Linked DNA regions of Homo sapiens. The protein of the gene in region 1 interacts with the protein of each later gene in a pairwise test. Each region holds a gene or a part of one and is shown in the gene's direction. Other genes may lie near its edges. The genes, in order: FAM241B, BIK, BLCAP and CGRRF1.

Region 1 (7,460 bases):
ACATACCTGTAGTCCCAGCTACTTGGGAAGCTAAGGCAGGAGGTCAAGGCTGCAGAGAGCTGTGATTACGCCACTGCACTCCAGCCTTGATGACAGAGCCAGAACCTGTCACAAAAAAAAAAAAAAGAAAAGAAAAGTAAAGAAAAAGAAAGATTTATGGAACATTCCATCCAAAACCAGCAGAATGGATATTCTTTTCAACCTTCTATGAAACATTCATCAAGATAGACCATATCCTGGGCCCTAGAACAAACCTCAACAAACTTAAAAGAATTGAACTCATACAGAGTGTGTTCTCTGACCACAATGTAATTACTAGAACCAATAATGGAAAGATAACAGGAAATCTCCAACACTTGTAGACTAAATGATCCTTTAACATAATCCATGGACCAAAGGGGAAGTAGCAAAAGAAATTTAAAAATACATATAACTAAATGAAAATGAAAATACACGTCAAAATGTGTGGGGCACAGCTAAAAGTGCTAACAGGGAAATTTATAGCACTAAATGTTTACATTGAAACATCTCAAATCAATAATCTAAACTCCCGACTCAAGAACTTAGAAACAGAAGAACAAAATAAACCCAAAGCAAACAGAAGGAAGGAAATAATAAAGATAAGAGCAGAAATCAATGAAATTGAAAACAGAAAAATAGAAACAGAAGACTCAGTGAAGCAGCGCTGGTTCTTTGAAAAGATCAGTCAATAAGATTGATAAACCTCTAGCAAAAGTGAAAGACACAAGATAGAAGACACAAGTACCAATATCCGGAATGACACAGGGATATCAGTGCCTGCCCTGTAGCCATGTGACTCGTTCTTCACAATGGAATGTGAGGGAAGTAATATGTGCTACACCTACAATACTTTTCTTTAAAAGAAATCACTAGCCCTCATTTCTTCTGTCTCACCTTTCCATGAGCTGCATATGGCGAAGAAGTTGGTGAGGCAGTTTTGACGACGCAAATAAGGGTGGCATCCTAGGGTGTAGGGGAGCAATAAGCTAGGAAGAGTGGATGTCCTTGGCTGGCCTTGTGAAGCAGAGCTGCCCATCTACTTGATTGAGTCACTGTATATTTTTTTTGTTCCAGCAGCATAGCCTGTACTCAAGCTAATATATTACACCTAGGTGGGTTTATGTCTTAGGGGACTTACATACTTACATATAACCAAGATATTGTGGGGCCACTCCAGTCTTCTGACTATGTAAGGTGTTTTCTGAGGCCTCCATCAATCCTCTGGTCCCCCATCATCTGTCCATGGATGAGGGCCATCACTGAACCACCCTTCATACCTGTCTACCTGACCCTTTCAAGTCCAGCAATTTTCCCACTACTACTACTACTACTACTACTACTACTACTACTACTACTACTTACTACTCCCTTGTCATTGCTGGAGCACAAGAATCCTTCCACCACACCTCAGACACAATGGACCCAAGGATTTCCACAAGGCCATATAAGGCCCTACCTGTCATACTCACTATCTGGCCATTCCCTTTCCCAAGCCTCATGCCCACCTTTGAGATCCAGCACACAACACCTATGCTCCCATCATTTCCTCCTTTCCCAGTGTTTTCTCTGAAGAGGCCCCTGTCATACTGTCTTCCATGGCCACAGGCCTAAGGAGGCACCAACAGTGGGCACTGGCAAGCTAGTGCTGCCTTTCTCCCACACCATTCTCTGAGTAATAAACACAGGCATAGTGTCTGCCAGAGTAGGGGAAAGAGACAGGGGGAAATAGCAGGAGAAAGAGATAGATAGATTAATATATTTAAAATGACATCACCATTATCATCATGCCATTCTCTTTTGAGGCAGAAACAGTTGTTCCCACCTGCAGAGTCAGAGAACAGGCCAGGACACCTGACTTAAAAATTATGACCTCTGCTATGAACAGAAAACCAAAAGCACATTTTTATTGACCACATGTTGGGGTTAAGGCATGACCCAATGCCCAATCTTGTGCTGATGGCACTGGGGAAGGTGGGGGCACAATTGTAAAGAGGCTGCAGAGCTGAGATGAACTCAGGGGAGTCTGTTTGGTGGATGCAAAAGCCTGGAATGCAGAGCCCGGGGACCTGCCTTCATTTGAACGCTGGCTCTGTCACTGACCTTGGGCTCATCATCTACCTTGTCTCTGAGCCTCAATTTCACCTTGGTAAAAGAGGAATAATAACACCTACTCTTTCTATTTCATAATCCAAAAAAGAATGAAGTGGTCTCTGGGAAAACACTTTGGAAGTAAGGACTCTGCACATATAGGGGTTATTATTATTATTACATGAAACAATCACGTTTGTGGATGAAGGGATTTAGATTGGGTGGAGCTGGCCTTCCAGCAGATATTCAGGCCCAAGCAAAGCAGGCCTTTGGGTGATCTACTTCAGGGAAAGCAAAGAGGCCAGGTGGGCAGAGCTGAGGGAAGGAGTTGCTGACAGTGTGCTGGGGCTAGAGTTGGAGGGTTGTCAAAGCCTTGCCAATGAGTTGGGGCTTGTTGGAGCAGACAGTAGGGACCATTGCAGGTTCTTGAGCAGGAGAGACACCTGAAGAAGGTGGAGAGATAGCAAAAGTGGTATGTTGCCTCCTTAGGCTATTTTAGTTGGTAATAATAGGCTATTTCTAAGTCCAGTCAAGCACTATCACTTCCCACCCCAAAGCTGTTCTTGACTTTTCTGTAGGGACTTGCTTCTTCCTCTCGACTCTTACGGTTCTCTCCAGCTGGAGTGTATCTCTCTGGCAGCAGTTATACCAGCTCAAATCTTCCTGAAAACATCCATGATTTTCTGCCTGTATCCCCTGGTTTCCCAGCCCACAGAGGTTACCTCCCTCTTGGGGCTCCTGAGTTCCGTGACCTACTTATGGGGTTCTGTTCATGGAAGGCAGTGTTTCTCGGCCCTAGCTGCTCATTAGAAGACTGGTTTTTAAAATGTCTCCATGCACAGATTGTAACCCAGATCAACGACATTGTGATCTCTGGGGTGGAACCTAGGTATTGGGATGGTTTCTAAACATTCCAGGTAATTCCAATGTGCACATTGCGATTTGGGATCACAGGCCACCTCTGACAATCGGGCATCCTGCCTTGTGATTACTGCTTTCATGCGTGCACTTGGCATACCTGGAACACACTGGGGTGTGGGGAGAAAGCACTAGGATTTTGGTTTATATTTACTTTACATCCTATGCTTTTAAAATGTGCATGCTTTACAATCGACTTGATAGTAGAAGAGGTAATGATCATAACAGTCAGCAGCCGTTGAGCATGTACTGCAGCCAGGCTCTCATCCAAGCACTTGACACGAAAGTGCCAGAAAGCAGTCACACCAACATTCAAACACAGGATGGCTCCAGCAGCCACCTTTTATCCATCATGCCAATCTGTTCTCACAGTACACATGTGTAATTTAGAAACAAACAAAAATAGTAACATATAAATAAGATACAGATACCAGAGCGACCCGTGAAACATTTTTTGCTGATAAGGTTTCATGATCAAATAATCAGACTATGGTGGCCGACTATGAGTCCTCCAGGCCAGGTCTAAATCTCTCTCTTAGTTTTGTTCCTTCTGCCCAGCAGCTAGCAGAATCTGGGTTCTAATAAATGCTCAACAAATATCTGCCACTCCCACAAACATTTATTAAATGATAATCATAGCTAACGTTTATCAACATTGCCAATGTGCCAGAGACATCATACTTAATCTTCACAGAAGTCCTGTAAGGCTATGATTACACCTGCTTTGTGACACTGAGCAGCTAAGTAACTTGCTAGAGTCCAGAACCTGAACCCAGACTGTGGGACTGCACAGCTCATTCTCCCCCACTGGTGAGCAGGTCCACAGGGAGCAGCTTATGAAGGTGGTGGGGGAGAAGTGGATTTTAAAACATCAGGAAGGAGGCAGAGGTGGATCATTCACTCCCTGCAGGTGGTTCCTTCTGCCAAGAGTGACCTTCTCTATCCTTACCTACCCTCCTGCCCCAGCTCAAACGCATCTTCTCCTGGAAGCCTACAGAGGGTTCTGCCCCGTTCCTGCCTCATCTTCCCCACTGAACTTGGAACTCCTAGAGGGCAGGGTTGGGTCCTACTCAAGGGGCATCCACGGAGCTGGGTCAGCAAACATAACACTGGTCATCTGAGCCTGCGCCCGCCCTTCCTCCCAGGCCAGGGCGCCCCCACCCCCTGGGTTTTTCCTCCGTGGACGCCGCTTCCTTTTCCTTCTTTTCTCCCTCCTCCTTCTTCTCCTTCTTTTCCACGTGTCTTCTCCTCCCATCCTCTTTTCTCTCCATCCCCACCTCCCACTCCTTCCCACGCCCCATCTCCCCGACCCCCAGCACCCCGCGCCGCCCCCAACCCTGGGCCGGGCAGGTGCAATTCCTCAGGCGGCCTACAGAGGGCGATGTGCGCCGCCACTGGGCCGCGCCCCTCCGGCGCGCGCTTCCTGTGAGGTCAGGTGGGAGGAAACCGCCTGGAGCCGCCGGGAGTGGACGCCGCCGAGGCCCGGAGTCGCGCCTGCAGGTGAGTCGCCGCGCCGGGGAGGGAGCGCATCCCTCGCTGCAGCCCGGGCCGGGACTTGGAGCCGGTGTCGGGCTCCAGAGGCTGGGGCTGGCGGCCGGGGCAGCGTCCCTCCCGCCCCCGGCCCGGAATGTCAGGTGCGCCGCGGGCCGGGCGCGCGGGTGGCCCACCGGGCGGGGGCGCGATGACAAAGCACAAAGGGACTGCGCGCGACCACCATCCGCTCGGCCTGCGCCAGGGCCAGCGGGCTTCAGGAGGGGGACGCGCCTGTCCCGGGCTCCAGGCTACGGGCAAGACCACAGGGCTCCTGACCTTTTTCGGCATACATGTCACCAGTGCTATCTGGAATGTAGGTGGACACTGAGGCTCATCTCCTGAGAATGAATGGCCTTTACCCAGACTCAAGGGGAGGCGTGGAGGGGCCCCGCAGTCCAGGGGTCCGCGGAGTGGAGCCTTTCGAGGGCCACCGCAGCAACCCCCTCCCATATTTTGGGAAGGCTGGGCCCTGCGCCCGTTAGCCAAGGTTGGACTGGTGTTCCCTGCGAAGTGAGGGACAGGTGAGGGGCGTGCCCTCTGCAGCAAAGGTGTGCTCTTCCGAGGCGCATGATGGCTAGGATGGTCTGCCGCTACCAGGCAGTGGTTGTAAAGTAACCCCGAAGTGACCCTCATCTCCCTGGGTGTTCCTGGGGAAGGCCCAGGTGGTGACATTGACTCCCTGGGGGAGCAACACACTCGACCCATTTTTTAGTGGAAGGGAATTGGAACCCCACTGGGGATGCTGGTGCCCTGGACTCCCAGTTTAGTACCCAGGGAGGGCCCTAGAACCAGAGCTTCTGGCCTCGTGTTCCTTCTCTGCTGTCCGTAGGTGTGATCCCGGGCAGGCCACTTAAGTCTCCCTGTGCCTCCGCCTGTGCAATGGCCGCGCTAGTACCCTCCTCGGGGGAGTGTTGTGAGGCTTGAGTGAGGTGAGCCTTGCAGGATGGGCCTTCCACGGGGCGTGGGCCACAGCAGAGGCTCTAGTCCCAGTTGTGCTGTTGGCAGTGTAGTGATTGGCAGTAAAACTTCCTTTGCCAAGGATCTTTTTGATAGTTTTCCTGGTGGACTCAATGTCTGAAATCTTTTTGCCTGGCAAACAACTTGCCTTTATTTCTCCCCTTTTTGTTAATCAGACACAGCATCTACTCAGCGTGGGTCACCTCTGTGAACATCACTGACTGCAAGCCTCCCTCAATTTCTGGTAAATTTTTTCCTTCAAGCTTTTTGAGGTCAGGGGGAAAATCCTCCACAGATCTTCACGAGTCTGGTCCCAGATCACTAACAGCTAAAGGTTTTGTGGTGGGGAGAACTTCTGTGCCACTTGGCTTCCATTAGCCTGCCCACCCTGACCACACAATGCAGGTGCAGCCCATCAGGGACCCACAGCGCCTGGGAGGATGGTGCGGATCTTGGCCAATGGGGAAATCGTGCAGGATGACGACCCCCGAGTGAGGACCACTACCCAGCCACCAAGAGGTAGCATTCCTCGACAGGTAGGTACTCATTTCCTGTGGAGTGGGACAGATGGCCTCCTGTGTACTGGCTACTCCTAGCTTCCAGAAGTCTCTCTTGCTGGTCACTAACCTTTTCTAGCCTGAAGCCCTCTTTGCAGAGAGCTGGGGAAGATGCAGTGGCTTATTGTCTACCTCCCCAGATCTCCTTTCTCCAGGCGCCTCCCCAGACTTCACAGCCAAGAGCTCTCTCTCCTTTAACTTGGTTAGCAAACCTCACTGGAGCTAGCGTCTTTCTTTTAAGAGTGGGTTGGATGACAGAAGCTGGAGAGGAAGTGGAGGAGATGAGCCCTGGGCACAGAATAATCATTTTAAAGGGGTGGCTGGGCGCGGTGGCTCACACCTGTAATCCCAGCACTTTGGGAGGCTGAGGTGGGCGGATCAGGAGGCCAGGAGTTTGAGACCAGCCTGACCAACATGATGAAACCCCATCTCTACTAAAAATACAAAATTAGCCAGGTGTGGTGGTGCATGCCTGTAATCCCAGCTACTCAGGAGGCTGAGGCAGGAGAATCGCTTGAACCTGGGAGGCGGAGGTTGCAGTGAGCTGAGATCGCGCCATTGCACTCCAGCCTGGGTGACAGAGCGAGACTCCGTCTCAAAAAAAAAAAAAAAAAAAAAAAGAAAGGAGTGATGATGAGTATTAAAAATGCTGGCCCTAGAGCCATGCCCTGTAGTCCAACCTGCCTCAACCACTTCCTCTCTCCTCTGTCCTGGGCCTGATGTGAGGAATATAGACTGGCATGTTCTGTGCTCTGAGAGCTTGTGACTTGGTTGTTGGGATTCTTATGGGTGGCATGGGGGATTGCTGAGAAAGGAGGGTGTGACCCTGGGTGGCTGTAGGAAGGGCAGGATGCAGCCTAGAGAGGTTGATTCCTGGCTGGTGCGTCAACCCAATGATTCATTCATCTCTCTCTGTCTTCACATTCCAGAGCTTCTTCAACAGGGGCCATGGTGCTCCCCCAGGGGGTCCTGGCCCCCGCCAGCAGCAGGCAGGTGCCAGGCTGGGTGCTGCTCAGTCCCCCTTCAATGACCTCAACCGGCAGCTGGTGAACATGGGCTTTCCGCAGTGGCATCTTGGCAACCATGCTGTGGAGCCGGTGACCTCCATCCTGCTCCTCTTCCTGCTCATGATGCTTGGTGTTCGTGGCCTCCTCCTGGTTGGCCTTGTCTACCTGGTGTCCCACCTGAGTCAGCGGTGACCTCTGAGGGCTGATAGGGGTGGGTTTGTTGAGAGGGACTTGCTGGGCCTTGGTGTGAGAGCAGGCATATTTGGAGGGGATCTGGTGGTGCCTTGAAGGTATGATCAGAGAGGGGACCACAGGTGTGTGTTTCCCCTTTGTGTTAAGCGTGAGGCAGAGGGAGACGTTAGTCCAGCATTTCCAAAGT
Region 2 (7,024 bases), on another chromosome or scaffold:
TGCAGATCTGGGCCCTAAGGCCAGCCTAGGCCCAGTTGGTGATGGGATCTTTGCCATTCATATCAAGTCAATCTGAGGGCCTGGGCCCAGAGGCCAGATGGTTAAAGGTTCAGATTAGGTCCCTTCTTTGTGGTAGAGGGTAATGGGTATTTAATAAATTAATCCAAAGTGCTGTAATCCCAGTACTTTGGGAGGCTGAGGCGGGTGGATCACTTGAGATCAGGAGTTGAGACCAGCCTGGCCAACATGGTAAAACCCCGACTCTACTAAAAATACAAAAATTAGCCGGGTGTGGTGGCATGTGCCTGTAATCCCAGCTACCTGGGAGTCTGAGGCAGGAGAATCACTTGAACCTGGGAGGCGGAGGTTGCACCTGAGCTGAGATCACACCACTGCACTCCAGCCTGGGCAATAGAGTGAGACTGTCTCAAAAACAAACAAACAAACAAACAAAAAAACACTACCACCAACAAAAACACAATAGATGGGGAAACTGAGGCTGGTGCAGGAAGGGTTGGGCTAGGGTATCAACCTAAGGTGAGATGTGGTCCTGGGTCTACTCAGATGGGGAGGTTGGCAGGGTGGGGAGCTTGAAAGGGTCTTGCAGGCAGAGCGTGGGTGACTGACTCCTCAGGTAGGCCTGACCTGCACTCTGCTGCAGACCCTCGGCAGCGCAGCCCACTCTGGTGGCTGGGGCCTTCTTCCTATCTGGCGCCTAAGGATTCTCGGAATGCCTGCTGGGTAAGGGGGCTGTGGGCACAGTGGGTCAAGGCGAGGCTCGGTGCAGCTCACAGCTCAGCTCACAGTGAGGTGAGGTTCCACTGTTGCTCTGGCTTTGCGGGGCGTGGAGGTACTGGGGTCTCCAGGAGCACAAAGCAGGAGACTGCCTTTTCGAGGGGAAGGGAAAGGGGGGAAAAGCAAACAAGGGCTGGAGCTGCTTTCCTAGGGAAATGCCATTTGCATAGACACCCAAGGCAGCTGGAAGTTCTGGACACAGTTCTTCTAATGCCAGCTTAACACGCACACTGCTGGCCGTCTATACAATGTAAAACATCTCATCTGTGAAACCTTATTTTTTCTTTTTGAGTCAGAATCTAGCTCTGCCTCCCAGGTTCAAGCTGGGATTACAGGCGTATGTCACCACGCCTGGCTAATTTTGTATTTTTATTAGAGGCGGGGTTTTACCATGTTGGCCAGGCTGGTCTCAAACTCCTGACCTCAGGTGATCCGCCTGTCTCAGCCTCCCAAAGTGCTGGGATTACAGGCGTGAGCCACCGCACCCGGCCCATCCATCTCCCTTGAATGCTGAAAGCAAGTCGTGAGCACACACTTGTGCCTAGGCCTGTGGGAGGGCGGCGCTGTGGGTCCTGCCTGCCGTCAGTTTTCTCTCTCCTGGGGGTCAGGGAGACTTGGAGCTCTGTCCCTTCTTGGCTTAGTCATGAACCTCTCTAAGCCTCAGTGTCCTGTGTGAACAAACAGCTCAGTGAGATGGTGGGAGGGCGGAGTGTCCTGTCAGCAGGCATGAGGAATTAAAAATTAAGAACACCCAGGGCATTATGGTAAGAAAATAATGAGTTGAAGCATAAAGGTAATGGTTAGTGCCAACTTCCTCCCAGCGTGCCAGGCCCTGTTCAAAGTACATGAAGGAGTTCCTTATTTCGTCTTCCCAATAGCCCAGGGCGGGGCTCTCAGACCATGAAACCCATTTCACAGATGAAGAAATTGACACACTGCTGCTAACTGCCAGAGCCGGGCTTTGAACTAGGCCATTAGATTTCCGTGCCACAGTCATCGTCATTATCGTCATCTACATCTAAGGCTGTTTGGTACCCTGTAGGGTAAATGTGGGGTACATGATGGTGAATCAGGTCGCAGAACCCTTCTCTGCCATCATGATGAAACATGTACTGGCATGGGATTCGCAATGATCATAGTTAGGAAGGCCTTTGGTGGCAAAGAAGAGGAAACTCAGTGAATGGTGATGAGGACACATTTGGGTTCATTTTTCTTACACACAGTTGGAGGAGACAGCTCAGTGACACCCTCAGGCCTGGCCGCTCTCTGCCTCCCCACTCTGCTCTTCTTGGTCAGCCACTGCAGCTCCATCTTTGAAGGAGCTGCCCTGGCTGTGTCTACTCCCTGGCATCCAACCCCTGCCTCCAGCCTCTGAGCCCTCATTGACCAGAACTGGGTTACATGGTTGTCACCAGCTGCAAGGGATGCTGGGAAGCTGAGGGAGAGGAGGGCCATGGTTGGCTTAGATGAATGAGGATGCAGGGCCACCCCGAAGAAAATTGGGGTTCTATCAGCAAGGAGCCAGGTGGAATGGATATCGGAGAGGTAAATAGCATCTGCCAGTAAAGAAGGCTGTAAGACACTGTATGGGGTGATCCCATTTGTGAAGAAGGATGTGTGATGCGCACAAGTGTTTAGGAAAAACACTAGAAGAATTAGCGATGGTCTCTCTGGGAATGGGGATTGTGATACGTTTTTCTCATGCTGCCTCTCTGCCTTTCTTCTCAAGAGAAACAGCAGACACCAAAGAACAGGTGTAGCCTTCTGTTAAGTGGTACAGAGGAATCGCCCTGCAGCCTGGCCTCTGTCCCCTGTGCTGACAGCAGGTGCCTGGGTTTTCTGCTTTGACAGGTTCTTGAGGGCTGGTGTCCGAGGAGAACTTCTAATATTTATTTATACTCTGATTTTGTTTCACAAAGAAGAAAAAGGCTGGGCGTGGTGGCTCATGTCTGTCGTCCCAGCACTTTGGGAGGCCGAGGTGGGGTGGATCACTTTGAGGTCAGGAGTTCAAGACCAGCCTGGCCAACATGATGAAACCCCCGTCTTTACTAAAAATACAAAATAATTAGCCAGGCATAGCTCATGCCTGTAGTCCCAGCTACTCGGGAGGCTGAGGCAGGAGAATTGCTTGAACCCAGGAGGCAGAGGTTGCAGTGAGCCAAGATTGTGCCACTGCCCTCCAGCCTCCAGCAAGACTCAGTATCCAAAAACAAAGAAAGAAAGAAAGGGCCCTTATGAATCATCTTCAAGTTCCTCCCTTCCAAGAACAGAGATGCTAGGCGACTTGCCCAGAGGCACACAGCCAGCATGTAGCAGGATTCATGCCTGTGGGAGCTGGGGTTGGGGGATATTGACGGCTTTAGCGGATCAAAAGAGCTGGTGAGTAGGGCTATACAATCTGGGGGTCATCCTGTGAGAGAGCCCCCAGACTGCTCAGTTCTTAGGGGTCCAGTCATATGCTGTCTTTTTGCCCCAGAGGAGAAATGTCTGAAGTAAGACCCCTCTCCAGAGACATCTTGATGGAGACCCTCCTGTATGAGCAGCTCCTGGAACCCCCGACCATGGAGGTTCTTGGCATGACTGACTCTGAAGAGGACCTGGACCCTATGGAGGACTTCGATTCTTTGGAATGCATGGAGGGCAGGTAGGTCCCCATGGCCTGCCCTACCCCCTGCCTGATAGTGACTTCAGGGGTGGGCTGGATGAGCAGACATTCTATGAGCGGGGGAGCGCCTGCAGATGCCTCCCAGGCAGGGCCTCCGAGAGGAAGATTTCCCGGATGTGGGCATGGAGGCTTCTGCCCTGGGAGCGGCTTCACTTTGCTGCCCCACCCTCCCCTGATACCAGCTCACAGACCCCTGGACAGCCAGCATGTTCACAGTCTCAAGATGGACCTGGGGCCCCTGGCTGTCAAAATGGCACAGTGTTTGGGCCTCAGGGAGCTAGACAGGCCCTTAGCGACCTGCTGAGGACATCAGGGCCTCTTGAAGGAGGTGACTCTGTTGCCAGAAAGGGGACCCGATCCAGATCCCAAGAGAGGGTTCTTAGATCTCAAGCAAGAAAGAATTTGGGCCACACGCAGTGGCTCGCGCCTGTAATCCCAGCACTTAGGGAGGCTGAGGCAGGCGGATCACTTGAGGTCAGGAGCTCGAGACCAGCCTGGCCAACATGGCAAAACCCTGTCTCTACTAAAAATACAAAAAGTAGCTGGGCCTGGTGGCACATGTCTGTAGTCCCAGCTAGTCGGGAGGCTGAGGCAGGAGAATCTCTTGAACCCAGGAGGCAGAGGTTGCAGTGACCCAAGGTTGCAAAAATGCACTCCAGCCTGGGCAACAGAGCGAGACTCCATCTCAAAAAAAGAAAACCTACTCTATAGGCAGAGCAGCGGCATGGGCTGCTCAACTGAATATACTTATAGTTATTTCCTGATTACATGCTAAACAAGGGGTGGATTATTCATGAGTTTCCGGGTAAGGGGTGGGCAGTTCCCGGAACCGAGAATTCCTCCTCCTTTTAGACAATATAGGGCAACTTCCTGACGTTGCCGTGGCATTTGTAAACTGTCGTGGCACTGGTGAGTGACTCCAACATGCTAATATAGTTGGTGCACAATGAATAGTGAGGATGACTGGAGGTCACTTTTGTGCCCATCTTGGCTTTGGTGGGCTTTGGCTGGCGTCTTTGCCGAATCCTGTTTTATCAGCAGGGTCTTTGTAACCTGTATCTTATGCTGATGTCCTATCTCATCCTGTGACTTAGAATTCCTAGCCTCCTGGGAATGCAACCCAGTAGGTCTCAGCCTTTTGTTACCCAGCCCCTAATCAAGATGGAGTCGCTCTGGTTCAACTGCCTCTGACGGCTCTCATTTTAGAAAACCAGAACCGGGCCGGGCGCCGTGGCTCATGCCTGTAATCCCAGCACTTTGGGAGGCTGAGGTGGGCGGATCACCTGAGGTTGGGAGTTCGAGACTAGCCTGGCCAACATGGTGAAACCCAACCTCTACTAAAAATACAAATGTTACCCAGGTATGGGGCCGGGGGTGGGGGGATGGGCGCTGGTAGTCCCAGCTACTCAGGAGGCTGAGGCAGGAAAATCACTTGAACCCGGGACGTGGAGGTTGCAGTGAGCCCTGAGATTGCACCACTGCACTCCAGCCTGGGTAACAGAGTAAGACTCCGTTTCACAAAAAAAGAGAAAGAGAAAAGAAAGAAAGAAAAAAGAAAGAAAACCAGAACCTATGGAAGAGCCTGAGGAGGCCATGCAGTTCCTGGTCCCGGCTTCAAAGAATCACTGAGGCATGAAGAAGGGATCTTCCTTGGACTGACAAGGACCCTGGAGGCAGCAGGATTTGCCTGGGGTTTCAGGGGCCAAGGTCCAGTAGGACCTGACCCTTGCACTCTGCCAACTGCTCCCAGCTATGTCCAGCACACGGCAGCATACCCAGATGTCCAGGCACACCCGGCCATCCCAGCGGCAGGAAGGACCTGCACTTTTTTTTTTTTTTTTTGAGACAGAGTCTCTGTCACCCAGGCTGGAGTGCAGTGGCATGATCTTGGCTCACTGCAACCTCCACCTCCCGGGTTCAAGTGATTTTCCTGCCTCAGCCTCCTGAGTAGCTGGGAGTGCAGGCGTGCACCAGCATGCCCGGCTTTTTTTTTTTTTTTGAGACGGAGTCTCGCTGTGTCGCCCAGGCTGGAGTACAGTGGCATGATCTCTGCTCACCACAAGCTCCACCTCCCTGGTTTACGCCATTCTCCTGCCTCAGCCTCCTGAGTAGCTGGGACTACAGGCGCCTGCCACCACACCTGGCTAATTTTTTGTATTTTCAGTAGAGACAGGGTTTCATCATGTTAGCCAGGATGGTCTCGATCTCCTGACCTCGTGATCTGCCTGCCTCGGCCTCCCAAAAAGTGCTGGGATTACAGGCGTGAGCCACCACACCCGGCCAGGACTGGCACTTTCATTCTTCCCCTGGTACAGATGAGGAACGTGAAGGCCCAGGAGCAGCTGACCTCAGTAGTTTCTACCCTGAGCCTGGAAGAGAATGGTCAGGCCTGACCTGGGCTGTTGCTTTCTGCTGGGGAATCCTGTCTCTGATGTGGCACCTCCCACAGGCCAGGGACCAGCTCCATGTTCCACAGGATTCTTTTCTGCTCAGGATTTTTTTTTTCAGCCTCAGGATTTTTAGTCATTAAGGATTTTAGAACTGGAGGCACCTGTCCATTAATGGACAAGGTTGGAGGACATGAAGCCTGGGGCAGTATTTTCCTGAGGTTTCCCAGGGTAACAGAAGGTAGGACCACAGCCCCCAACCCTGATTGCCAGCCCACACCTGTACCCCTCCCACCCGCATCCCCTCCAAGTAGGGAGTGTAGGCCCAGGGCATTGGCAGGTCAGGTGGGTGGGGCCAGGGCCCAGGGCCGGCCTCAGCTCAGGGCCCCTAGGAGTCCCACTTCCCTGGGAGTTCCCCCGGTGTAGTCACTGGGATGGAATGCACACAGGTCCCTGGTAGAGGCCCAGACCAGCAAGCTGGGAGGGTGGGGAGTGTCTTAGTCTTTGTGTGGGAGTGAATGCGGGTGGGGTGTAGGATCAAGGATGTGGTTTAGTGGGGGGCCTACTAGGGGCTTCTTAGTCCCCCCATTTGGAGAGGGGTGGTGCCAGCAGGGCTGGTTTCAGGATTGGGACCAGGACACAGGTCTTAGAGCCCCCTCACCTCCCACAAAGGAAGGTAAGCTGCAACCCCTGTGGGAAGGGGGCTCAAGGGGGCTCAGCCATCCGGGGGACTCAGCACCACCAGACCTGTCCATTCCCCTTGGTCAGCCTCAGCCATCCGGGGGCTCAGCACCCCCAGACCTGCCTGTTCCCCTTGTCCACCATTTCCACCAAAGCCCACAGGTGGGCCTGCCCCAGGATTCTTTTTGAAATAGCTTGCACCTCTGGGGCCACCCACGGATGGGACCTCATGGGTATCTCTGAATCCAAGTGGGAGCCGGAGGAGGGATACAGGGAGGCCCACTCACTGCCTGCCCCAAATCTGACACCATCTCTTATCCTCTGGGCCACTCCCAGCTGCACACAATCCGTTGGCTGGGTGGGTCCAGGTGCATGTGGCCTCCACGGCACAGCCACACCCGACTCCTGTGTGTGCTCCCTGCAGTGACGCATTGGCCCTGCGGCTGGCCTGCATCGGGGACGAGATGGACGTGAGCCTCAGGGCCCCGCGCCTGGC
Region 3 (7,151 bases), on another chromosome or scaffold:
TGCATTAGAAGCCCTGCCTCAGCTTCCCCAGTTTTCTGGGCCCCAGGGAGAAAGGGCTGGCCACTGAGGCCTTGTACATGCTAACACTCAGCCTGAAGTTACTGGAAGGTGGTATCCCGCAAAACAGACCTGATCCTTGTTTAGCAGCATGTCACATTCCATGGGATGGCAGGACCCCTTCCTTTCTTCCATTTTTCTTGTTTCTGTTTTTGAGATGGAATCTCGCTCTGTCGCCCAGGCTGGAGTGCAGTGGTGCCATCTTGGCTCACTGCAACCTCCACCTCCCAGGTTCAAGTGATTCTCCTGCCTCAGCCTCCCGGGTAGCTGGGATTACAGGCGCGTGCCACCACACCCAGCTAATTTTTATATTTTTAGTAGAGACAGGGTTTCACCATGTTGGCCAGGCTGGTCTCAAATTCCCGATCTCATGATCCACCTGCCTTGGCCTCCCAAAGTGTTGGGATTACAGGCGTGAGCCACCACACCCAGCCCCTTTCTTCTATTTTTCTTGAGGTATAACATACGTAAAGTATATAAAGCCCCCAGTCTTTTTTCTTTCTTTCTTTCTTTTTCCCCCGAAACAGGGTCTCATTCTGTCGCCCAGACTGGAGAGCAGTGGCACGATCTTGGCTCACTGCAGCCTCTGCCTCCCGAAGTCCCCTAGTCTTATGGTGAATTTTTACTTGATGAATTTTCACTTACATAATCACCAGCCAGAAGAAGATATAATCCTTCCAGCATCCCAGAAAAGCTCCTCTTGCTCCTTTCCCATCCCTACTCCTGACCTGACCCAGGTAACTACCATTTTGATTTCTAACCCTATAGATTAGTTGAGCTTTATATGAATGGATTCATATGGTATGTACTGTTTTGTATCTGGCTTCTTTTAGTCCACATACTATATGTGAGATTAACTGGTGCTATTACATGTAACAGTAGTTTGTTCTTTTATATGTAAAACACAGTATTCCATTGCATGAACATGCCACAATTTATCCATTCTCCAGTGATGGACATTGAACTATTTCCAATTTGAGCTATGAATAAGTCTGCTATGAACATTCTTGCACAAGTCTCCATGTAAACATAGGCACTCATTTCTCTCGGGTACATACCTAGGAGTGGAAATTCTAGATCACAGCATAGGTGTATGTTTAGATTTTGTAGATGCTGGTTTTCCAAAGTGGCTGTACCAATTTGCTCTGCCGTCAGCACTGCAAGAATTTGTTGCTCCACAGCCTCTCAACATTCAGCTCTCTTTTTCTTTTTTTGTTAGTTTTTATTTCATAATCATAAACTCTGCAATCCACCTGGGCATGGAAGGGAACAAGGAAAACATGAAACCCAAAGGGAACTGCAGCGAGAGCACAAAGATTCTAGGATACTGGGAGCAAATGGGGTGGAAGGGTGCTCTCCTGAGCTACAGAAGGAATGGTCTGGTGGTGAAGATAAAACACAAGTCAAACTTATTGGAGTTGTCTACAGTCAGCAATGGTGATCTTCTTGCTGGTCTTGCCATTCCTGGACCCAAAGCGCTCCATGGCCTCCACGATCTTCATGCCTTCTTTCTTCTTTCACCTTGCCAAAGACTACATGCTTGCCATCCAACCACTCAGTCTTGGCAGTGCAGATGACAAACTGGGAACCGTTTGTGTTGGGTCCAGCATTTACCACGGACAAGATGCCAGGACCTGTATGCTTTAGGATGAAGTTCTCATCATCAGATTTCTCCCCACAGATGGACTTGCCACCAGTGCCATTATGGCATGTGAAGTCACCACCCTGACATATAAATCCTGGAATAATTCTGTGAAAGCAGGAAACCTTTTAACCAAATCCTTTCTCTCCAGTGCTCACAGCACGAAAGTTTTCTGCTGTCTTTGGAATCTTGTCTGCAAACAGCTCGAAGGAGTAGGGGCCTAAGGGCGCGTCATCGACAGTGATGTCAAAGAACAAGGTGGGGCTGACCATGGCTGATAGTATGGGGATCCCAGCGGCATCTGCAAAGCCAGCTCTCTCTTTTTCTAAACAAGAGCTTCCACTACAAGACTCCTCTTGTCATTCAGTGTTGGATACTGGGTGTGGCTGCCATGGATGCATTGATCCTTTAGCCTGTAAGCAGCAGGATGGTGGGAGGCCACATTCAGGCCTGTTTTGAGTCTCAGCTGGAGGAGAAATGGACATCTCCTTGCTTTGGATGTGACCTCAGGAACTGGATAGCCATCTTGTGGCCATGAGCATAAACCAGCACAAGGACAGAAGATAAAATGAACCTCAGTCCTTGATGACACTGCCTAGCCACTGAGTGGCAGGCTACTTATTTTTTTAAGCCACTTGATGTAGTTGTGTGTTTAACTTGCAACATAAAAGATACAGTCCACCAACCTTCTTTATTCCCAAACCCCAACGGCTCCATTTCTGTTCTCAACAGCATCAGCCCCACTGAGCACTCCCTCCTTCCTGAAACCTCCTCTCTAGGACCCACACTCACTTGGTCCTCTTTCTACCCCACTGGCCACTGCTTCTTAGTCTCCTTTCCCGGATCCTCCTCTTCTTTTCTCTCCACCTTCTTTCACTTGCGTTCTCACCCAGCACCATGACCTTTGTATTGATGGCCCCCAAATATGTATCTCCTGCCCCAGCCTCCGTTCGCAGCTTCTGTGTCACATAAACCTGCCTACTCACCCTCTCTGCCTGCATGTTGCCCCGACATTTCAAACTTAACTTCTCAAAGCCGAACTTGATCTTCCCCCTCAGTCCGTTCCTCTTTCAGGCTTTATTGTCTTGGTCAAGGAATCTTTTACCCTTTCATTTACTCAAGGCTAAAACCTAGCGAGGAGTTATTGCCAATGCCTCCACATCCACCCAAGTCCAATCTTCCACCCTTCCCTTCACCTCCCCAAGCTACCACCCTGTCTGAGTCAGCATTGGCTTTTGTCTGGAAAGCTGCAACCACCTCCTAACTGGTCTGCCTACACCCACTCCTGAGTGCTTTCCAAGCCATGCGGCCTGGGTGGCCTTTCAGAAATCCTAATTTGCTATCCTCTTCCTGATGAAAATGGCTTCCCTGACTCTCAAGAGAAAAGCCAAATTCAGTATGTAGCTGACCTGTTTTCTTCTGTGCTCACCTCACCCCAACTCTGCCGCTTCCCAGCTCCAGATCTGGGACAAATGTTCTTTCTGCCTAGAACATTTCCCCTCTCACTCTTACCCTAATCGTCCTTTGTTTCTCAACCTAAATGCCATCTTCCCAAGGAGGTTCCACCCTTTCCCTACATTAGTACTCCATTAATTTCTCCTAACACTCTCTACTTCTTCTCACAGCACTTCCCATGATGTGTAATTATGTATTGATTAAAGTCACTAATATACAGTGATTATATGACTGTCTCCCCGCCTACCCGCCATTAGACTGGCAGTGCCTTGAGGTCAGGGACAGACCCAGGTTACCGACTCTACCTGCCCTTAGCACTGCGCTTGGGTACAGTAAGCGCCCAAGGAATATGCTTAATTAGCTAATAAATGACTACACGGACTCATTCAAGCCTCATAAAAGCCCTAAGGTGGGCATTTCAACAGAAGCCGGGTCGGGGTGGGCGAGGGGCTCGCTGGCCCAAGGTACGGGGCAAGTGGGGGAGCCGAGGCCTGACCCAAGGCAGTCCCAAGTTCTGAGCCCGGACCTTTCAGCTCCTGAGCCTTGGCTGCATGATGAAACGCTAGGGAGGGGGTGGACTTTGAGCCACGAGAAGGTTTTCCCGGAGTCCACGGACCATCCACGCGGGCAAGAACGAAGCGGGTTCACCAACATGAACACAACCCGGCCCGCCCAGCGCTCACGGAGTAAGGATCACAATCTGCTGCATATGCATGAGGGGACCCGGCCGCGCTTCGGGGCTGTCCACACTGCGCCTGATAAAAATTATTCGGGCTTGAAGATCTCGGGGCTCCCAGAGTTTTGTAAAAGTGCATACAAAGTCCTCAAAGGTGGTCTGTGGCTGATATTTACGGGAAATGGGGCGAGGATGAGCCCCCACTTCGGACCTTGTGATCAGGCGTTTGCGGTAGACAGCCCGATCCCAGGATGGGTCCTCGGCCGGCTCGACTAGAAGACTAAGGGGGCGTCTCCCCGGCTTCCTGCGGCGTCGGTGGCGAGCTGAGGTGGAGGCAGGCTGCGGCAGACGGCGACAGTGGCGGCGGCGCCATGGCAGGGCTTGCAGGTACCGTGGCGTCAACCTGCTTGGGGCGGGATGAGAGGCCCTCCATGCGGCCGCGCCGCCATATTGTCCCTTCTGGGTCACCTTAGGCGTCGCCGGGTCCCCGTCACTGGGGTTTTCCTTCCGCATACCCCGGGAAGGCAGGGCGCCCCTGTCCGGCTTCAGGTGATTGCCGTGATTGGACCTAGCCTGGGCCTTGGGGGGTCCCTTCCCAGCCCGGAGGTGGGTCATAGTACTCCTGGGTGCTGGCTCTGGCCTTGTCCAAGGTCAGCGCCCTTGCAGGATGAGACAGGCAGAGCCGGGGGCACGGGGCTGGGAGCGCGACCACCATCTCTGCAGCCCCGGGTTCCACGGCAGGGTGCCCAGCTTGTGAGAGGCCTGTCATTCTGTCCCCATCAGTTTAGTTGCGTTGCTTTAGTTGCTTTTTTGGGGGGGAGGTGGGGGGACGTGGGGGTGAGGGGAGAGAGGGTCTCCTGAGGCTCCGCTTCGGTGTCTGGGGTGATAGGCTGACGCTCTGCTAAGAGTCGCGGGCGCTTCTTACTCCCTCCAACTTTACATCAAGGGTGGACATCCCTTCCCTTTCCTTCTATAGACGTGGGGAGTGGCCCTCAAGGGCAGCTGAAGGAACGGAATGCCTGGCGCACTAATGGCCTGGAAAGGAAGCATGGGGGATGGGGGACAGTTGTTTTTTCCTTCCCCTTTCCAAATCTCCTTTAGTTTCCTTCCAGGCCTCCGTGTCCCATTTCATCGCCGAATGTTGGGAGACTGGGGTCTGTCCTCGGAAAGAAACAGCCTTTCTGTTTATAGGTTTGGATCGTCTATCCCTTTCAGGGAACTGGTGTGTTGGGGACGGCTTCTCTGCCCTGCCTGACATGGTCCAGTCATCCCGTCAGCCTTCTGGACGGCAACACCAAAGCTGGGACCAAAAAAAAGTTCCAGCTTAAGTGCTAATGCCAAGTGTTAGATCTTGTTTGCTTGTTTGTTTTAAATCAGAGACTAATTAATGTCAAGCAAATCTGTTAAAAGATTTGATCACGGGAAGCCTGGTCGGTTTCCAGTGACCAGGTCAATTCCATATCTGAAATTAGTCTTGTTAGAGTTGCTGCCAAAAACAGTTTAACCTTTAATCTGTAATATGTTGTTTCAAAGAGGAATCTGGGTTAGACTGTCTTTTTTTGTTGTTGTTCTCCTATCTTTGAAACACATGCATTCCATTTCAAGCCTGTCCCTGTGCGATATACCAAGAACCACGCGTTGCCTGCCTCTCTGACTTCCTGCTCTGGAAATGCTCAGGAATCTGGATCCTGCTGGGGCATGCATGGGCCCTGTGGGAGGGCAAGTCGGGGAGGGGAGGATAAACAGGATCACTCCCAGGGAAGATGGTGACAACGTGTCTCTGGGGCATATAGAGGAAGTCAGAGGTTACCGGGGGGAAAAGAGATTGTTGTTTGACTAGTGTTTTGTGTATGTGCATGAGTGCACACGTTTAAATCTCTGAGGGGGGGTGGGGGCGGTGGGGGGGGGAAGTTAACTGCAAATTCAGAATCTCCCTTTGGGGTGTTGGCTCCTGAGGAGATACACATTTCAAAATAGATATCTAGTAAATGGCTCACAGCAAACCTGCTCCCCGATCCAACAGTAATCCGTTGCCCAAGCTCAAGGAACTTGCCCCTGCCCTTCCCTGACAGCAGACATCCCTTCCTTCAGTGACAATTCAAATATTCCACAGATAAAGGTAACAGTGTCACATAGCACCCTGCACCCCTAAAAGTCATGGTACCTAAACACCTCTGGACTTAACTTCAGTTCGTTAGGCTAAGAAACTAACATCCTGGAGTATTAGTCTCAAGGGTCTCTCACCTGTTGCTGGAGTCCCACAGAGCTATTCCCAATTCCTTCCCAACCGATCTGCTCTGTCCTTGGCCTTGTGGGGGCAAAGTCTTCTGGGAGCAATGATGGTTTAGGCAAAGGGGACGTTCAGCACTGTGACTAAGGGCTGTGCAGTAAAACACTAGTCATTTTCAATTCTTCGCATTGCTCTCTATCAGAATAAAATGTTTAATGGTATAGTTTGTGGAAAAAATTTTATAAACAAGGTGTGTTTGGACCATCTAGGCATTGCATGGCATTGCACTGGATGGAAAGTGAATGCACTGTCTTCTCTGGTGGGTTAAGTTTGCTGCCAGAACATGAAGTTTTGTGGGTGGAGGATGCAAATGGGGAGTGGACATTGCACATTGAAGCCCACACGTGCAGGTGCAGGCCACCAGGGCAGCCCTTGCCTGGAAATCTGTCATCTCACCTTGCCACACTCACAGCCCTGCTGATGGACGGATGGAGGAAAAGGGCTTTGCCAAGATGATATGGAAAGCTCTGGGGCTACCAGGAGCCTCTTGTCCTCTAAGTGGGGGCACAAGAGGTGCTGTGTCCAGAGCAGCCAGCTCTTACCATGCTGCTTTGGCCTACCTCCCTGAAATCTGCTACCTTGTCACTTGGGCTGAGGTTAGAGCATCAAGAAGGGCAGTGGGGCTATGGGCATACCCCTCAAAAGCTCCGAAGGGAGGGTCAGCCTTCATGGAGAACACATGTTGGTATGTTCATGATTCTGTGGGTTTAGTGTGGAAAACCACAGAAACTCCCAGTTTTGAGGCCTGCCAAGATATGGGGTTCAGAAGGGAGGAGGTGTGGGCATTGCCTGCTGATGAGTCACACTGGGGCGAGAGGAGACCTGCCTCACCTTCAGGCTATGGTAGCAGCTATAGCCACCCAGCCTAAGAAAGATGAAGTCTCAGATTGCACATCCTCTTCAAGTCCTGATGAGTCCTGATTGCCACTGCTATGGCAGTTTCTAGCGTGTTAGGGTTCACTGGCATCTCAAAGGCCCTCTTCGAGAGGGAAACTGGAGATGAAGGGTACAAGGTGACATGTCCAGGTTCC
Region 4 (7,024 bases), on another chromosome or scaffold:
ATCCTTCCTCAAGAAGGTTTGTGGCTTTTCCGCCCCATCATTTCTCCCTTTTTAGTGGCTTAGCATATTTTCTACAGTCCTTATTTTTTTCACTTTTTTGCAAGGCTGTCTCTTACACTCCGCTTTATTTGCTTGTTATAGATAGTCTGGGTAAGGACAGTTTGAGAGATACCACACCCATGTGCTTCACTTATTTTGATTCTGAATTTTCTTACAGCTACGTCCCAATTCTGTTAATGCTATTGATCTAAAGTGATGTCATGTGTGTACTGAGTTTTAGAAGGCAAAAAAATACATAAAAATTGAAACTCTTTGCAAAAAAAAAAGTGGAAAAGGTAAAGGGAGAATAGTTTTGATGGGGGTACTGACACTGTCTTCAGATAGTGGAAATCATTACATTCTCCCCTCAGTTTATGTAATGGACAAGTTTGTAAAAGATTATAGAGATATACCTAATGCTAAATGACGAGTTAATGGGTGCAGGACACCAACATGGCACATGTATACATATGTAGCAAACCTGCACATTGTGCACATGTACCCTAAAACTTAAAGTATAATAATAATAACATTAAAAAAAGAGATTATGGAGAGTATAATTTTATAGATTCTGTAGTTTTTTTAAATTAATTTTAGAGACATTTTAAGATCTGATTAATCTCCAGTTGTCAAAGGTCTCTGACACTCTTCCCATTTTAGTTAAGTATACAAAGTCTATAAACGAGTCTCTTAAGTAGCTCTGAATCTTTGGGGCTCTGGCTTTTTTTTTCTTTTTACAAAGCAAATAAACAGGGTAGTTTTATATGTTCTGTAAGCTGTAAGTTGAGTTTTAAAAGGCTTATCCTTCCATTGTTCTTTTTTTTTTTTTCTTTTTTTGAAACAGGGTCTCACTCTGTCATCCAGGTGGAAATGTAGTGGTGTGATCATGGCTGACTGCAGCCGTGATCCTCCTACCTCAGCCTTCCAAGAAGTTAGGACCACGGGTGCGTGCCACCATGCCCAGCTAATTTTTGTGTGTTTTGTAGAGACATGGTTTTGCCACGTTGGCCCAGGCTGGTCTCAAACTCCTGGCTCAAGTGATCTGCACATCTTGGCCTCCCAAAGTGCTGGAATTACAGGCATGAAACACCACACCCAGCCTGTTCTTCTTTAATGTAAACAAACACATATATGGGTATCCATTCTTGTGAGATAAACAGTAGCATATATATTTAATTTTCTCTACCTTGCTTTTTTTTCATTTACTAATATATTCTGAAGATCATTTCATAATAGTGTGTGCAGATACTCTGATATACCTCAATTCTTTTTTTTTTTTTTTTTTTTTTAAGAGACAGAGTCTCACTGTGTCAGCCAGGTTGTAGTGCAGTGGCACGATCTCGGCTCACTGTAACCTCCGCCTTCCTATTCACTTTTAATAGCTTCTTAGTACTTTATTGTAGAGTACTATATTTATTCATTTAATCCGCATTGATGAACATTTGGGTTTATTCCAGCATTTTGCTATGATAACTAGTGCTATAATGAGTAGCCTTATACATATATCTTTTCACATTTTTGCTAGTAATACAATAATAAATAATCATTTTGTGTTTCTTGTTTTTTCTTTTTCAATGTTTTAAAATATGCATTTTCTATTTTTTCCTTTCGTATCTACCTCCAGCTTTTTTCTTCTGCCTCATGTTATGTGGTTCTACAGTGACAAAGGGAAAAATATGTGTGATTTTGTATGTGTGTGTATATGTGTGTATATGTATTTGTGTATGTATAAATAAAATGTTTTCCTTCAGCTATTTAATATCAAATGGAATTTTTCATTCTTGAGTTAATACCTGATGATTGGAATCATAAAAATTTGAAATCAAAGCCTGCTCCAATTAACCTATGCAAAGTTCCTACCAATTAAAATTTTTCCTTAAGTATGATTAGAAATGGCCATGTATCAATGCTACTCAGACTCTCAGACTGTGTGTACATACTACTAAATACTGAGAGTAAAATTGGAAAAATCAGTTTTTGGTATCCTGTGGAGCATCTGCTTGTATTTGTGTATCTTCTTCTAACATATACTCTTGATCACATTTTAAAAAATAGGTAATATATCAATCAGAATTCTTATTAGCAAGCAACAGAAACAACTTCAATAAAAGGATATTGGGTAGCTTACAGAATTGCTGGCAGGTTTGGAGAGCCAAAATCAGATGCCAAGGCTGTTGAGCCAGGAACAATGACCAAAACCAGGCCCTTTTTATCTAGTCAGTGTATCAGTGCCAAGGAGTACTACACGTTACAGTTTGCGCTGCTACAGTTTGCACCCCCAGCAGTATGAAAGGCTGGATGTTGCTACCCTTGAATGTGATATTGCTACAAATACCACTAGGAGGGGGAAATCACATAGGTGACACAAAGTAAGTCCTATACAAGTGTTAAATAAAACTGTATAATTTCACATCTACTTACAATTTGTATATCCATTTAATCAGGTCTACTCAAATTGTTATATCTTCTTAAGTTGAAAGTGAACAACTGAATTAAGATACCACTATTAAACTCTTTATGTTTTGGAATCCCCACTCTTTTCCTCAGGATATTTTGCATATTACATGGGACATTAAGTCTGTGACAAGCCTGTATGTTAATGTTGTCAATGTATACATTAATGTTAGTAAAGCTCAGTTTCTTTTTAATATTTTTCTTACAACAGCGATCATGTTGTGGAGCCTATAGGTTGTACATATCCCCTTTAGAGGACAGCTGTATTCTGCTGCACTGTTTCTTGTCGTTAGGATCATATACACTATGAGAGTGGTAGGTTATCAATAGTGAACTGTATTTTAGTTTTAAAAATCTAGATGGGAAATGTCTTAGAGTCGCCAAAAAAGAAAATTAACAGTTTCTAAGCTTTAATAGATAAATAGTAAGAAATAGTTTTTTGATAGCTCTCAAAAAATGTGTAGACATTGAGCTTTTATATCTCTTGTTACAGAGGCCAGTTCCTTCGTTTATAGGAGGCATACCCTTTAACAAGTTCTTTTAACTGCCATCATCCTGGCCAGCATCCAAAAGGAAGCTTTTGTTACTCACCCTGTATGATTGTATTAGAAGTTACATTAAATCACTTTCATTCTTTCTCCTTTGTTTTTTACAGCTGGCATAACCTTGACAACAGATTGCCTTGAAGATAGCCTCCTTACATGCTACTGGGGGTGCAGTGTTCAAAAATTATATGAAGCTCTGCAGAAGCATGTTTATTGCTTCAGAATAAGCACTCCCCAAGCATTAGAAGATGCTCTGTATAGTGAATATCTCTATCAGGAACAGTATTTGTATCCTTTCGTCTGATATACCCATTAGCACTGAAAATTAGACTTCTTATGGATAAAGTGTTGCTAACTTATTGATCATTCTTGGTATACTAGAAGCATGTTTATTGCTTCAGAATAAGCACTCCTCAAGCATTAGAAGATGCTCTGTGGAGTGAATATCTCTATCAGGAACAGTATTTGTATCCTTTCATCTGATATACCCATTAGCACTGAAAATTAGACTTCTTATGGATAAAGTGTTGCTAACTTATTGATCATTTTTGGTATACTAGAAGCATGTTTATTGCTTCAGAATAAGCACTCCCCAAGCATTAGAAGATGCTCTGTGGAGTGAATATCTCTATCAGGAACAGTATTTGTATCCTTTCATCTGATATACCCATTAGCACTGAAAATTAGACTTCTTACGGATAAAGTGTTGCTAACTTATTGATCATTTTTGGTATACTAGAAGCATGTTTATTGCTTCAGAATAAGCACTCCTCAAGCATTAGAAGATGCTCTGTGGAGTGAATGTCTCTATCAGGAACAGTATTTGTATCCTTTTATCTGATATACCCATTAGCACTGAAAATTAGACTTCTTATGGATAAAGTGTTGCTAACTTATTGATCATTTTTGGTGTATTTTTGTTCTTATGGTTATAGTGGCAATTTACCTTTACATTTTCAAAAAGTATTAAAAAGGATAGCAAAGAAGAAATATATTGCCAGTTACCAAGAGATACTAAAATTGAAGACTTTGGTACAGTACCCAGATCTCGCTATCCATTGGTAGCGCTATTGACCTTAGCTGATGAGGATGACCGGGAAATTTATGATATTGTAAGTAATTGAAAATTTTGAAAGCATTACCTTTAAGTGATTTGAATGGTGGTTCTTCATTATTTGATAAATAGAAAAAGTTTTATTTTAATTTCTGAGGATGTGCATTTGGCCTACAACAACTATATACCTATTTGGTTTTTATATGTGAAACAGTACCTTCAGATTATGACTCATTTCTTGCCTTATGGGTCACAGTAATATGACTTTATTTGGAAAATAAAAGATATATAATGGTTGAATTAAGTTAGTTTCATCATTAACACCTATTTGGTTGTATACACCTATTTAGTTTTTATATGTGTAACAGTACCTTCAGAGTATGACTCATTTTTTGCCTTATGGATCACAGTAATATGACTTTATTTGGGAAATAAAAGATATATAATGGTTGAATTAAGTTAATTTCATCATTCTGTATTCTGTCATATTTGCTGTATAGAAACAGTCTGTTGGGAAGCATGTTTATTCTGAACATGTTTAGCAGTGAATAAATAAGCACAATAATGATCGAAAGTGCTCAATTTTAAGATAGTATCCACTCTTTTTTTGCCTGCTTGCAGTCACCTTGTTTCCATCAAAGTCCCTGCTGCACCTATATCTTATATGTCTGGTCCCTGTATTTTCAGTAATTATAATAATCTCCTTTCCTCATTATGTGCTAATTATTTTTTCAGTCTGATAGTTGATTCCTATTAGGAAGTTAAAAGTATCTTAGAGATCTAAGAGGACTGAAACTTTGACAATCATCTGAGTATAATAGAAACTTAGACATGAAATAAACTTTTGATGAAATTGTATCATGGTAAAAATGTCCTTACACACAATTGACTACTTTTCTGAAGTATTTAATATAGATTATTCATTAATAAACATATGGTAACATTGTTTTGTGATATTCGTAATATGCAAAGTACGTTCACAAACATGAACTTATTTTTTTCTTCTAACAACCTGGTTTCTTAGGACAGGGCAAATATTCTCCTTTCACAGACTGAAACAGAGTCAAGAAAAATCCCAGTCATTCAGGCAGTAAGAGATGGAACAAGAGCTTGACTCTGAGCTTTTTGTGTGTGTTTGTTTGTTTTTGTTTTTTGAGTTTATTTTTTTTAGCAGGAATATCTTCCTGCAACAAGTGTACATTGAGCTTTGGAAGGTAAAGACTCTTTGGGAAATCTAGACCCTTCTTACTCATTTGCAGTTAAGCACCTAGGTTTTTGGTTTTTAATATTTTCAAACTGAAGTTCCATTGAGCTGAGGTCAGCTTATTTTTTCCAAGTCATGGGGAGCAGAGGGGAAGGAAATGGGGATATGTAGGTCACTAGAGACAAAGTTACAGATACATAAAATGAACAGGTCTAGAGATCTAATGTACAGCATAAAGACTATAGTTAATGTGGTATTGCTTTTGGGATTTTTGGTGCTCTTGCCACATGCAAAAAAAGTGGAAGTAACTGTGTAAGATGATGCGTAATTTGCATTATAATAGTAACCATTTCACTAGGTATATATATATCAAAACATCCTGTTGTACACCTTAAATATATACAATAAAAATACAAAATACAAAAGTCATACCAGCAGTAGTGTATTTCCAGAACCTAGTACAGTGCCTAGGATATAATAGGGGTTCAATAAAGATTTGATAAGTAAAAAAAAAAAAAAAAAGTCATACTAGACAATGTTAATGAGCCTCATAGAGCTTGACAGCGAAACACCTTAGCTGTACATCCCATGCACCTTAGCGTGCATGAGAGGCCTTCTGGCTTCCTCCCTCCTTTCTCTCAGTTTCAGTTAGAGATAAATAAAACCTGTTAAATTGGTGTCTCCTATTTCTAGCTTCTTTGTTCTTGACCCTGTGTACTTGGGCAAGGAAGCCCTTCTGCCCCCACTGTGTGCCCCATCTCTGCTGAGTTTCTTGGGTTCTGTTCTCCTTTTTCCTTTGGTTCAGCACAAAAGGATCAGATCGCAGTCATTTTCCCTCCCAGCTTCCCCATTGCATTCCTTTTCCCTTCACTGATAGTGCTCTCTAGGTGCTCAGGGTCTTTTTTTTTTTCTAACTTTCTTCCCCTGTCCAAACAGGGAGTGATTGTGTATCTGTGTGGTAAAATATATATATTTTATATATAAAGTTTACCATTTTAACCATTTTTGTGTGTGTGTTTTCAGTTCAGTGGCCTTTTAGGCCAGAGAAGAGTTTGCTCTCAGGTCCCTGATCACACTGGATGAAGACTGTGTGGCCCAGCTGTAGTTGTGGGAGGCTTGTTCCCATAGGGAAGCCTGAGTGTCTCCCAAGGGTTAACAGCCATCTTCTCTTGTGCTTTGTGTATGTCTCTGTGTCTGGGTCCTTTTGAATGTCTTTTATTCTCATCTGTGGGCTCCCTCCTTTTTTCCTGTTAATCCTTGCTTCTCGTCTTATTTCTTAGATTGGGGGTAATATTGGCACTCAAATATATTTATTAGTGTATTTTGTATTAATGTTCTCTGTTTATAATTTTAAAAGCAAATGGACCATTTCCTATTTCTTTTTCATATGTGTTTTTTCAGTATTGTATGTGCGTGTCAGGGACTATATTTTTTTAAAAAATTTATTAATAAAATCATTTTTATTTTAACAGCAAAGAATTATATTTAGGTAGTACAGTTAGGAACCACTTTGTTGTTTTAGATTAAAAAAAGGAAAGCAGGAATTGTTACTACAAAATTTTGACTTTAAAATTTTTTCATTTTTAGTTAATTACATTGGCTTTTTTTCAGTATTATTCAAATAATACATTTGTGGCAGGAAAAAAAATTAGAAAGTGTAGATAAGCCAAAAGGAGAGAAGTATAATAATCTGTATTCTATCATCCAAAAATAATCACTGTGAATATT

Evidence for each region.
Region 2: the proteins of FAM241B (region 1) and BIK interact in binary tests that used the Homo sapiens proteins (3 or more experiments, as listed by UniProt).
Region 3: the proteins of FAM241B (region 1) and BLCAP interact in binary tests that used the Homo sapiens proteins (3 or more experiments, as listed by UniProt).
Region 4: the proteins of FAM241B (region 1) and CGRRF1 interact in binary tests that used the Homo sapiens proteins (3 or more experiments, as listed by UniProt).

The regions. Positions count from the first base shown.
Region 1 is NC_000010.11:69,625,787-69,633,246, forward strand, and holds the start of FAM241B (protein FAM241B), read left to right. Parts: upstream 1-4,460; 5' UTR 4,461-4,527; exon of another isoform or gene 4,528-4,850; coding exon of another isoform or gene 4,851-4,873; intron 4,874-4,917; exon of another isoform or gene 4,918-5,489; intron 5,490-5,693; coding exon of another isoform or gene 5,694-5,761; intron 5,762-5,922; coding exon of another isoform or gene 5,923-5,957; coding exon 5,958-6,053; intron 6,054-7,003; coding exon 7,004-7,273; 3' UTR 7,274-7,460. UniProt on the Homo sapiens protein: May play a role in lysosome homeostasis.
Region 2 is NC_000022.11:43,120,745-43,127,768, forward strand, and holds part of BIK (bcl-2-interacting killer), read left to right. Parts: intron 1-3,271; 5' UTR 3,272-3,278; coding exon 3,279-3,439; intron 3,440-6,952; coding exon 6,953-7,024.
Region 3 is NC_000020.11:37,524,859-37,532,009, reverse strand, and holds the start of BLCAP (apoptosis inducing factor BLCAP), read left to right. Parts: upstream 1-4,133; 5' UTR 4,134-4,217; intron 4,218-4,277; exon of another isoform or gene 4,278-4,436; intron 4,437-7,151. UniProt on the Homo sapiens protein: Acts as a tumor suppressor; induces growth arrest at G(1)/S checkpoint and apoptosis via RB1-dependent and p53/TP53- and NF-kappa-B-independent mechanisms. Modulates expression of genes involved in the regulation of proliferation, cell cycle and apoptosis.
Region 4 is NC_000014.9:54,526,901-54,533,924, forward strand, and holds part of CGRRF1 (cell growth regulator with RING finger domain protein 1), read left to right. Parts: intron 1-3,148; coding exon 3,149-3,326; intron 3,327-4,002; coding exon 4,003-4,150; intron 4,151-7,024. UniProt on the Homo sapiens protein: Able to inhibit growth in several cell lines.